Regions from separate parts of the Homo sapiens genome. Here region 2 is linked to region 1. The links come from fine-mapping of genetic effects on gene expression. Tissue or cell type: whole blood. Region 1 holds a variant in brackets; the other region holds the start of a gene. All regions are shown on one strand. Distances are from middle to middle.

What was found. PIP is the estimated chance that this variant, and not a neighbour inherited with it, causes the effect.
Region 2: NDE1 starts here. The variant in region 1 is fine-mapped to the expression of NDE1 in whole blood (INTERVAL, PIP above 0.99).

What each region holds. Positions count from the first base shown.
Region 1 is chr16:15,723,171-15,728,318 of GRCh38, forward strand. It overlaps NDE1 (nudE neurodevelopment protein 1), which reads left to right. Exons shown (of 9, transcript NM_017668.3): 9 at 1,021-3,183. The coding sequence ends at 1,081. MYH11 (myosin heavy chain 11) reads right to left here. Exons shown (of 41, transcript NM_002474.3): 28 at 3,678-3,884; 29 at 1,718-1,822; 30 at 1,477-1,629; 31 at 991-1,239. Among named protein-coding and RNA genes, the nearest start is that of NDE1, 76 kb to the left of the region's middle. The variant C/A (reference allele first, on the strand shown) is at 1,980.
Region 2 is chr16:15,648,193-15,653,340 of GRCh38, forward strand. NDE1 (nudE neurodevelopment protein 1) reads left to right here and starts at 2,053. Exons shown (of 9, transcript NM_017668.3): 1 at 2,053-2,102. RefSeq lists enhancers at 1,754-2,255, 2,256-2,755 and a silencer at 5,120-5,148.

The sequences.
Region 1 (5,148 bases):
ATTAAGATTTGTGAATCTCATCACATGTAAGTTTTACCCCAAAAGAAGCAAAATTGTGTTTAAAAATAAACTCTAATTAATATGCAATGTTGAGGTGTGGAAGGGGAAATGTACTGACATCTGTAATTTGCTCTGAAATGTACCCAAGAGATAAGGCATGATAGATAGAATTAGTCTTTATAAATAAATATGTGGGCCGGGCATAGTGGCTCATACCTATAATCCCAGCACTTTGGGAGGCCAAGGCAGGCAGATCATGTGAGGCCAGGAGTTGGAGACCAGCCTGGACAACATGGCAAAACCCCATCTCTACTAAAAATACAAAAATTAGCCAGACATAGTGGTGTGCTCCTATAATCCCGGCTACATGAAAGGCTGAAGCAGGAGAATCGCTTGAACCCAGTGGTGGAGGTTGCGGGGAGCTGAGATCACACCACTGCACTCCAGCCTGGGTGACAGAGCTAGATCCTGTCTCAAAATAAGTATCTGATAAAGTTCATATAATACAGTGTCAATGACTGAATCCAGGTGGTGGCCTTAAAGGTGTTCACCGTACAATTCTGTCAACTTTGCTGTGTACTTGGAATTTTACAGAATGAAATCTTAGGGAAGAGTGGTATTAAAAGTATAGAAACTGAATTACTTGGAATACTACTCAATAGGTATTCAGTAAATACATTTAGTGAATAAATAAGCACCTCATTCCTTCTTCAGGCTAGAAACTAAGGCATCACCATGTGTGCAGGTGACCCTCATGGTGCTGGTACCCAGAAAAGTCACAGTCATCAAGGCTTCTTTGCCATCCTTACTGTGACCTGGTAGCGTTAATGCTCCATGGTCGCCCAAGACAAGATAAGACAGCCTCCCATGGCTCCCCACAGAGTGGAGAGGGGATGCAGGCACAGGCCAGAGCCACGCGTCATACTCTGCAGAGCTGATTCCCCAACCCAGCGTCCATGGCCAGAGTGGGGGACACCCCACGCCCTCTACCTGATCAAATTTCCTCTGCTTCTTTTCCAGGTTGGACACGAGTTGCCGCTGGTTGTCCAAATCAACAACCAGGTCGTCCAGCTCCTGCTGAAGCCTGTTCTTGGTCTTTTCCAGTTTATCATAAGCGGCCGCCTTCTCCTCGTACTGCTGGGTGAGGTTCTCGATCTCCTTCTGGAACCTCTTCTTCCCCTCTTCCAGAGCTTCCACGGTGCTGGCAAAGTCCTGCAGCTTCTTCTTCGAGTCGGAGAGCTACAAGGACAGCGTCCAGGGTAGGGTGAGAGGGGGACCATGAGTGGCCCCTGTCCCTGGCCCCACAGACTCTGAGAAGCGAAGACCATGTCTCCTCGTTGGAGAAACCCAATAGCAGGGGAAGCTGGGGGGTCAAGCACCATCGCACCAACACTCCACCGCGATCTGCCTGCGGGGGATCTCAGCGCAGAGAAGTTGAGAGGACCCATGAAGGAAGCAAGGACACGGGGCAGGCACCTGGATGTTGAGAGTGGAGATGTGGCGCTCCAGGTTCTGCTTGGCCTCCATCTCCTCGTCCAGCTGGTCTTGCAGGCTGTTCCGCTCCTCCTCCAGCTGGCGCAGCTTCGTAGACACGTTGAGCTTCTGCCGGGTTTCTTCTTGAAGCAGCTCCTGCAAAAGGGATGCAAAGAGGTCCCAGGGACCTGCCCCGAGGAAGGCCACCCCCCAGGTCCCCTGGATGATGTGGCAGGACACTCACCTGGGTGTCCTGGAGCTGGGAACTGAGGGACGCCACGTCCTTGGCCAGCTTAATGGCCTTCCCCTCGGCCTCGTTAAGCATCCCTGTGACGCTCTCAACTTCATTCTAAGGGTGCCAAGAGACTGGTTAGTCAAAGCCTCTAGAAGGGGATCCTCGTTGAAAGGAGCCCTTTTTACTCAAAACACATGGGCTAGTACTTGAGGTGTTCACTGATTGAGAAAATACCCGTGAGGTATGGGACTCTGATAAAAAAAAAAAAAAA[C/A]ACACACACACACAAAAAAAACAGAATCTGTGGCTTGAAGGGAACTCCGTCACCTATGAGTTGGGACCCTGGCCCTAGACTCTGTGGTTCTAAGAACTTATTTGAGCCCCAATGGTATTGACTGGGACCTGATCCCACTAAATGGATCCTAGATCCCTGCCAAGGTTGGTAGAGACAAAGCAGCAGGTCTGAGAGTCCAGACGAGGTGCTCTGGCTGGTCCACTCTCTAAGGCTGGAGAAGGGAGACCAGGATGGTACTTGAACGTCCCAGGGATGCTGTCCCATCCCTTCCTTCCTCACTCCTACTCTTTGACCCTGATGGCCAAAGCCAGAGACGCAGGCCCTAAAGGTAAAAACGTCCTCTCTGTATTCTCTGGCTTTTACTCCCTAGTGTCTCTGCATAAGTCCCTTTGAGGCTGTTAGCCTACCCCTCCATCTCTTCCATTGACAAGGAGGATATGAATGATCTTGACACTGCTTATATGAGGGCGGCAAAAGCCCTGCTCTCAACTGCATGTGAGAAAAAAACATCTCACTTAATTCTTCCCTCGCCCCTTGGTCCCTGGCTGTGGACATGTTAAACATTTGTGAAAACTTTGGCCACGTCCCCATGAGTGGCAAGGCAGGGTAAATGGCTATGCCAAGTGAAAGAAGACCAAAGACAAAAAGACCATGTCATTCAGCAGCTTAAAACCCCTCAACAGCTTCACATTGCCCAGAGTAAGGATCAACATACATGTAATAGGTTCTCAAAAGCCCTACATCATCTGGGTACAAGCTCCCCCTCCAACCCCACTCTGTACTATCTCCCCCTACCCCCAACCCCAGCTGGGCACTCCAGCTCTACTGGCTGTATGTCTCTCTCCTAATTTTTCTACTTACCACAGGGCCTTTGCACACGCTGTTCCCTCTGCCTGGTAGACTTATCCATGCTCCTTAGGGAAGCCTTTCGTGGCTCCTCCTCCCCCAGGTTAGGCCCCCTGGTTATTTACACTTGGGCATCATGTGCCTTCCCTTTGCTGCATCATTTGACATTCATTTGTGTGATTATTCATGTCTTTCCCTTCCCTTCCCTTCCCCTTACTCGGCTGGAGTCCTACTGGGGCAGCGACAGTGTCTCTTCTTCCTTGCTGTTGGATCTCAGGATTAAGCACAGTGCCTGGCATACAGCAGGTGCTCAATAAATACTTATCAAATTGGAAAAGGAAGGGTTTTTTTTCTTTTTTTTTTTTTTTCCTGAGACAGAGTTTTGCCCTTTTAGCCCAGGCTGGAGTACAATGGTGCGGTCTCCGCACACTGCAACCTCTGCCTCCTGGGTTCAAGCTATTCTCCTGCCTCAGCCTCCCGAGTAGATGGGACTACAGGTGCCCACGACCACGCCTGGCTAATTTTTGTATTTTTAGTAGAGACTTTTCACCATGTTGGCCAGACTGGTCTCAAACCCCTGACCTCAGGTGATCCACCCACCTCTGTCTCCCAAAGTGCTGGGATTACAGGCATGAGCCACCGTGCCTGGCCAGAAGGTTTTTTTAATATTTAATTGAACAGGGAGATCATCGCCTCTCCTCCAGGAACGCAACTAGAGGAAAGGACTTGCCTTGCAGCAAGAGAGACCTCAGCGAGCCGGGAAGAGGCTCCTCCCCACAGAACTGGGCACCACCCAGCACTGCCCACCACACCACCGCGCCACCTCCTCACCTGCAGCTTGTGGACTTTGTCATTGAGCTCCGCCCGGGCCCGCTCCCCATCGCTGCACTTGGACTGCAGCTCCTGCACCTGCGCCTCCAGCTTCTTCTTCTTATGTTCCACCTCCTGCTTGGCCTGGCCCAGGACCCGCAGCTCCCCGGCCAGGTCTGCGTTCTCTTTCTCCAGCGTCTGCTTATTCTTGTCTAGGTTCGCCTTGGCCTGGCGAAGGAAGCAGAGGGGAGGGATAACAGGGAGGCTGTGGCCGGGAGAACGTTTCAGGCCCTGCCCTTTCCTCCCTCAGAGAGGTCCAGGAAGGCACACAACAGGGGGCACACAATCACCAGTAAGAGATTTGGGGTTTTTTTGTTGTTATTTTTTTTTTGAGATGGAGTCTTAACTCTGTTACCCAGGCTGGAGTGCCGTGGCACAATCTTGGCTCACTGCAACCTCCGCCTCCCAGGTTCAAACTATTCTCCTGCCTCAGCTGCCCAAGTAGCTGGGATTACAGGCGCCCGCCACCATGCCCGACTAATTTTTGTATTTTTAGTAGAGACGAGGTTTCACCATGTTAGCCAGGCTGCTCTCGAACTCCTGACCTCAAGTGATCCACCCATCTTGGCCTCCCTAAGTGCTGGGATTACAGGCGTGAGCTGCCGCACCCAGCTGATATTTTGGATTCTATTTTCCTAAAGCTCATGGGTTGCAATCTGGAATCCCACAAGCGGTATCCAACCTGCTGACATGTCCCCTTTGACCCTTTCACTACTTTTAAAAAAATGAGTTGCCGACATTTTAATAAATGTCACATAAAAATCTGGATTCCCAGCTTCTTTTTCAAAAAACTTTAATGTTTGAAGGCATGCCATGGCAGCTCATACTTGTCATCCCCAGCACTTTGGGAAGCAGGCAGAAGGATCGCTTAAGGCCAGGAGTACAAGACCAGCCTGGGCAATGTAGTGAGACCCCCATCTCTACTAAAATAAAACATTAGCTGGGTGTGGGGGGCACACACCAGCAATCCCAGCTACTCAGGAGGCGGATGGCAGGCTTGCTTGAGCCCAGGAATTGGAGGCTGCAGTGAGCTATGATCACACCACTGCACTCCAGCCTGGGCAACAAAGTGAGACCCTGTTTCAGAAATAAGTAGCTTTGGGAGGCCAAGGCAGGTGGATCACTTGAGGTGAGGAGTTCGAGACCAGCCTGGCCAACATGGCGAAACTGCATCTCTACTAAAAATGGAAAAATTAGCCGGGCATGGTGGCGCACGCCTGTAGTCCCAGCTACTGGGGTGGCTAAGGCACAAGTATTGCTTGAACCTGGGAGGTGGAGGTTGCAGTGAACCAAGATCATGCCACTGCATTCCAGCCTGGGTAACAGAGTGAGACTCCATCTCAATCAATCAATCAATAACTAACATTCTATGTGGTGACTGTGGTGGTGGTAGTTACACAATACACATTTGTTAAAATTAATGGAGCAGTAA
Region 2 (5,148 bases), 75 kb before region 1:
TTATCCTTTCTTTGTGTTACAAGCACTCCAATTATACTCCTTTAGTTATTTTAAAATGTACAATACATTGTTGTGGACTGTAGTCACCCTGCTGTGCTCCCAAATACTAGATCTTATTCATTCTAACTCTATTTTTGTACCCACTAACCAGAATGTTCGGTATTTGTTAATGAACATGTTATGACAGGATGTTTTAGAAGAAAATAAAGAAAAAAAGAAATTCCAGCCAAGCATGGTGGCTTGATTTTATTTATTTATTTATTTTGAGATGAAGTCTCCCTCTGTCTCCCAGGCTGGAATGCAGTGGCGTGATCTCCACTCACCGCAACCTCTGCCTTCTGAGTTACATGGCTCACGCCTGTAATCCCAGCACTTTGGGAGACTGAGGTGTATTGCTTGAGGTCAGGAGTTCGAGACCAGCCTGGCCAACACAGTGAAACCGTGTCTCTACTAAAAATACAAAAAATTAGCTGGGCGTAATGGTGGGCGCCTGTAATCCCAGCTACTAGGGAGACTAAGACAAGAAAATCGCTTGAATCTGGGAGGCAGAGGTTGCAGTGAGCCGAGATCGCACCATTGCACGCCAGCCTGGGCAACAAGAGGGAAACTCTGTCTCGAAAAGAAAAAAATTATTTTTTAATTTTAATTTGTTAGTGAACAATTAGGGTTGCTGTGAGAATTGTGCCTGGCACACACAGCCATTTAAAAATCACGATCTTCAGGCAGTGTGTGGTGGCTCACGCCTGTAATCCCAGGACTTTGGGAGGCCGAGGTGGGTGGATCACCTGAGGACAGGGATTCGAGAGCAGCCTGGCCAACATGGTGAAACCCCGTCTCTACTAAAAATATAAAAATTAGCCGGGTGTGGTGATGCGGGCCTGTGATCCCAGCTACTCGGGAGGCTGAAGCAGGAGAATTGCTTGAACTCAGAAGGCAGAGGTTGCAGTGAGTGGAGATCACGCCACTGCATTCCAGCCTGGGAGACAGAGGGAGATTTCATCTCAAAATAAATAAATAAACAAAATCAAGATCATTTAACAAATACATATATTGTACTTACTAAGTTCAAATTTCTGTTCTAAACGTTTTTACAAATGCTGTTAAGTCATTTAGTCCTCTGCATAATGTCGTTTGTTTGTTTGTCTGTTCTTTAAGACGGAGTCTTGCCCTGTCGCCTAGGCTAGAGTGCAGTGGTGTGATCTCGGCTCACTGCAACCGCCACCTCCCGGTTTCCCGTGATTCTCCTGCCTCAGCCTCCTGAGTAGCTGGGATTACAGGTGCGTGCCACCACATCCGGCTAATTTTTTGTATCTTTAGTAGAGACGGGGTTTCACCATGTGCCAGGCTGGTCTTGAACTCCTGACCTCGTGATCCACCCGCCTTGGCCTCCCAAAGTGCTGGGATTACAGGCGTGACCACCGCGCCAGACCCATAATGGCGTTTTATAGATGGGGAAACGGAGTCATAGAGGCTAAACAACTTTCCCAAGACCACACAGTTAGTAAGGGGCAGGACTAGGACTCAAAGCCAAGTTTATGACCAAATTCTGGTGCACTACGTTCTCCTGCTTCTGGAGAAGATAATGATGCTGAAGATTCTACTTTTGGTGTAAAGGAGTAGGAAGGGCACGGGGCACTGCTAGCTTCAGTGGGCCTGAATCTTTGTCTTTCCTTCTGATTTGGAGAAAGTGCAAGAATGGGAAAATGCAATCGAAGTGAAGGAGAGGCCGGCGTATTTTCCTGAAATGCGCGGCCCGCAAGCCCAAACCCGTTTCCCGGGTGTCCAGGCAGCGTTCTGCAGCATCTCCAATGCCCGCCAGCCCGCCGCAGCCCAGCGCCCGGCAGCCGGCGCCTCTCAAACCCCCTCCGGCCAGGAGCCTTCGCCGCTTGGCCGCGCCGCGCCCGGCCTGGGAAAAAAGTTTCCAAACGACGCTGCTCTGCGCTGATTGGCCGAGGCGGACGCGGTACCGTAGAGCAGCAGCCAATGGGAGGCGCCGACCGCAGGCTCCGGGGCGGGGGCGGGGTCCGGAGGGCCGGGGCCGCACCGCCCTTCGCAGCCGCCTCTGCCGCCGCCGCCGCGTTGGCCTCGCCGCCCCTGCTCGGGTAAGTGAGGCGCTGCGCGGGGCTGGGGTCGGGGTGGCTGTCCGGGGACCTCCACCGCGGCTGAAAAGCTCCTCTGCCCCGCCCCAGGATCCCGGGACCCCGGGCCACCGCCTGGCAGGGACCCCTACGCCCCTCGCTTGCGCGTCGCTTCCCGGCCGCCTGGACTCCCCCGGTCCCTGGGCTCCAAAATCCCGCCTCCCTGGAGCCTCCCGTCCTAAAAAGTTAGGCACTGAGTGCCTTGCCACCGGTGCGTTCCTCGCGCTGGCCCCTCGCCCTTGGCAACTTTGTTTCTCTTTCTGCGTTGGTCTCTCTCCCACCCCGTTGCCCTCTTCTCCTTCCGGGACTTCCTGGGTGGTTAAGCCTTGCCGGTCCCCAAACCCCGCTGCCAGGCTCCATCCTCTTTCTCCTCTTCCTTCCTCCCCATACTCCTCTCCTAGATGACCCTCGTTTCTTTTCTCTCTCTCTCCTATTCCTCCATCCTGCCACCCGCTTCTCTGCGACCCCAGACCCCTCGATTGCAGCGTTGCCCCTGCCCTCACACCCACTGTCCCGCCCCTGCAGGCCTCTTTCCAAAAACCCACCCTGCTCCCTCCCTCCGGGAACACGTTTGGGGCAGTCTGCTCTCCGCTTTGCTCCCGTCTCTGCCGCAGGACGGTTCAGGTTTCTTCTGACAGCACTTTGGGGAGGGATTGGGTAAAGGACGAAAATGCTTATTCCGCAGCTTGAGTGATGGCTGGGCTCACTGAGGACCTGAGTCTCTGAGGTCCTGGGAAACCCCGCTGTCACCTTGACACCGCTTTTGGGGAGGCGACTTTATCTTCTCCGAGCCATCTCAGGCTTTCTGCCTCCTGAGGGCCTGAGCTTCCTTGATTGCTTTGTCCGTGGTTACTACCAGGTTGTGCCTCTTAATTTCTACTTTGAGCCTCAGGCCCCTTTTAACTTTCTAAAGAAAAGGCCTTTGCAGCACGACCTAGGCAGGTTCATCATTTTTAGTTTTGTTATAGTGTATTCTAGCATAGGATGGCATTTTAGGACATGGGTCGGGTGTTTTGAAGATTAATTAGATCCCAGCTACTCCTAAAGCCTCTTGTTACCCGACCACCCCAGCCTCCATCACCTCGTTGGTATACAACCCGTTTTTTTTTTTTTTTTTTTGTTTTTGTTTTTGAGACAGAGTCTCACTCTCGCCCAGGTTGGAGTGCAGTGGTGCGATTTTGGCTCACTGCAACCTCCGCTTCCCGGGTTCAAGCGATTCTCCTGCCTCAGCCTCCGGAGTAGCTGGGACTACAGGTGCGTGCCACCACGCCTGGCTAATTTTTTGTATTTTTAGTAGAGATGGGGTTTCACCGTGTTAGCCAGGATGGTCTCGATTTCCTGACCTCGTGATCTGCCCCCTCGGCCTCCCAAAGTGCTGGGATTACAGGCGTGAGCCACCGTGCCGGCCTACAACCCATTTTGAGCCTTTCCTCTTAGTGTGTGTTTTGTGTAGGATTAAATGCAGATGATCTGTGCCGCTGAAGTCTCAGGGGCCTGTGATTCATATATTTTATCCCATGTTGGATAACAGTTTATTAACTTGACTTATTTTTGTTTCCAAAGTGTGTTATTTATTATTTATTTATTTATTTATTTTGAGACGGAGTCTTGTTCTTGTCCAGGCTGGAGTGCAGTGGCATGATCTCGACTCACTGCAACCTCAGTCCTCCGGGTTCAAGTGATTCTTCTGCCTCACCCTCCTGAGTAGCTGGGATTACAGGTGCGTGCCACCATGCCCGGCTAATTCTTAGTAGAGATGGGGTTTCACCATATTGGCCAGGCTGGTCTCAAACTTCTGACCTCGTGATCTGCCCACCTCAGCCTCCCAAAGTGTTGGGATTACAGGCATGAGCCACTGCACCCGACTCTATCATTATTATTATTTTTTATGTAGAGGCAGAATCTTGCTTTGTTGCCCAGGCTGGTCTCAAATTCCTGGGCTCAAGCAGTCCTCCTGCCTTGGCCTCCCACAGTGCTGAGATTACTTGCAGGCATGAGCCACTGCATGCAGCCCAAAGTGTGTTCTTTTGCCTTAGAATGTGAGCCGAGAATTGACACTCCTTTTCCTCACAAGGTAATTTCCTAACATGAGCATTCCTGTGTACAGAAAGTTTGTGCCTGCAGTTAGTACTACACGTGCACCTCGTGCAATGGATGTGGGTGCTTTTTGTCTGCCTCCTTCAGCAGTGCCCAGCACTTAGTAGGTATTCAAGAAATGTTTGAAAAGGGTTGGAGGAGGCAAAACCACAGTAGGAAAAATTCTTTCCCTGTCACTTGGTTCAGTAGAATAAAATTATCCTGGAACAATAGCTATTTTACTTTTTGTCCAAGTTTTTGTTTGTTTGTTTTTTGAGACGGGATCTCACTCTGTCGCCCAAGCTGGAACACAGTGATGCAATCACAGCTCACTGCAGTCTCGACCTCTCAGGCTCAAGCAATCCTCTTGCCTGAGCCTCCCAAGTAGCTGGGACTAAAAGCACATGCCACCATGCTTGGCTAATTTTTAAAATTTTTTGTAGAGATTGGGGTCTCACTATGTTGCCCAGGCTGGTCTCGAACTCCTGGGTTCAAGCGATCCTTCCGCCTCAGCCTCCCAACGTGCCGGGGTGGGAGAGAGCCACCGCGCCTGGCCTAAGCTTTTTAAAATCTCTAAAGCGATCTATGCTTACTGTATATATGTGTATGTAGTTTACCTTAAAGCAAGGTGTCAGGTACAAATCCACAGGGCTTGCTTTACCCCCATTCTGGTGCATCCTCCAGACCCTTTTCTATTCTGTGTACAGAGAGAGGGAAATAAACAAAAATGGGCACCCATTTTTAACATATCCTGAGCTTTCTTCCATATTAGTACTTACAGTTCTTAACAACTGCATCGTTTTCCATTCAGTCCTCTGTTGACATTGAGGTTTCCAGTTTTCCACATTCGTGAATGATGGTGTGCATCTTTGAACATGGGTCCTTGCCTGCCTAAGTATTTTTGTAGGTTGATCATTGTAAACTTGGAAAGCAC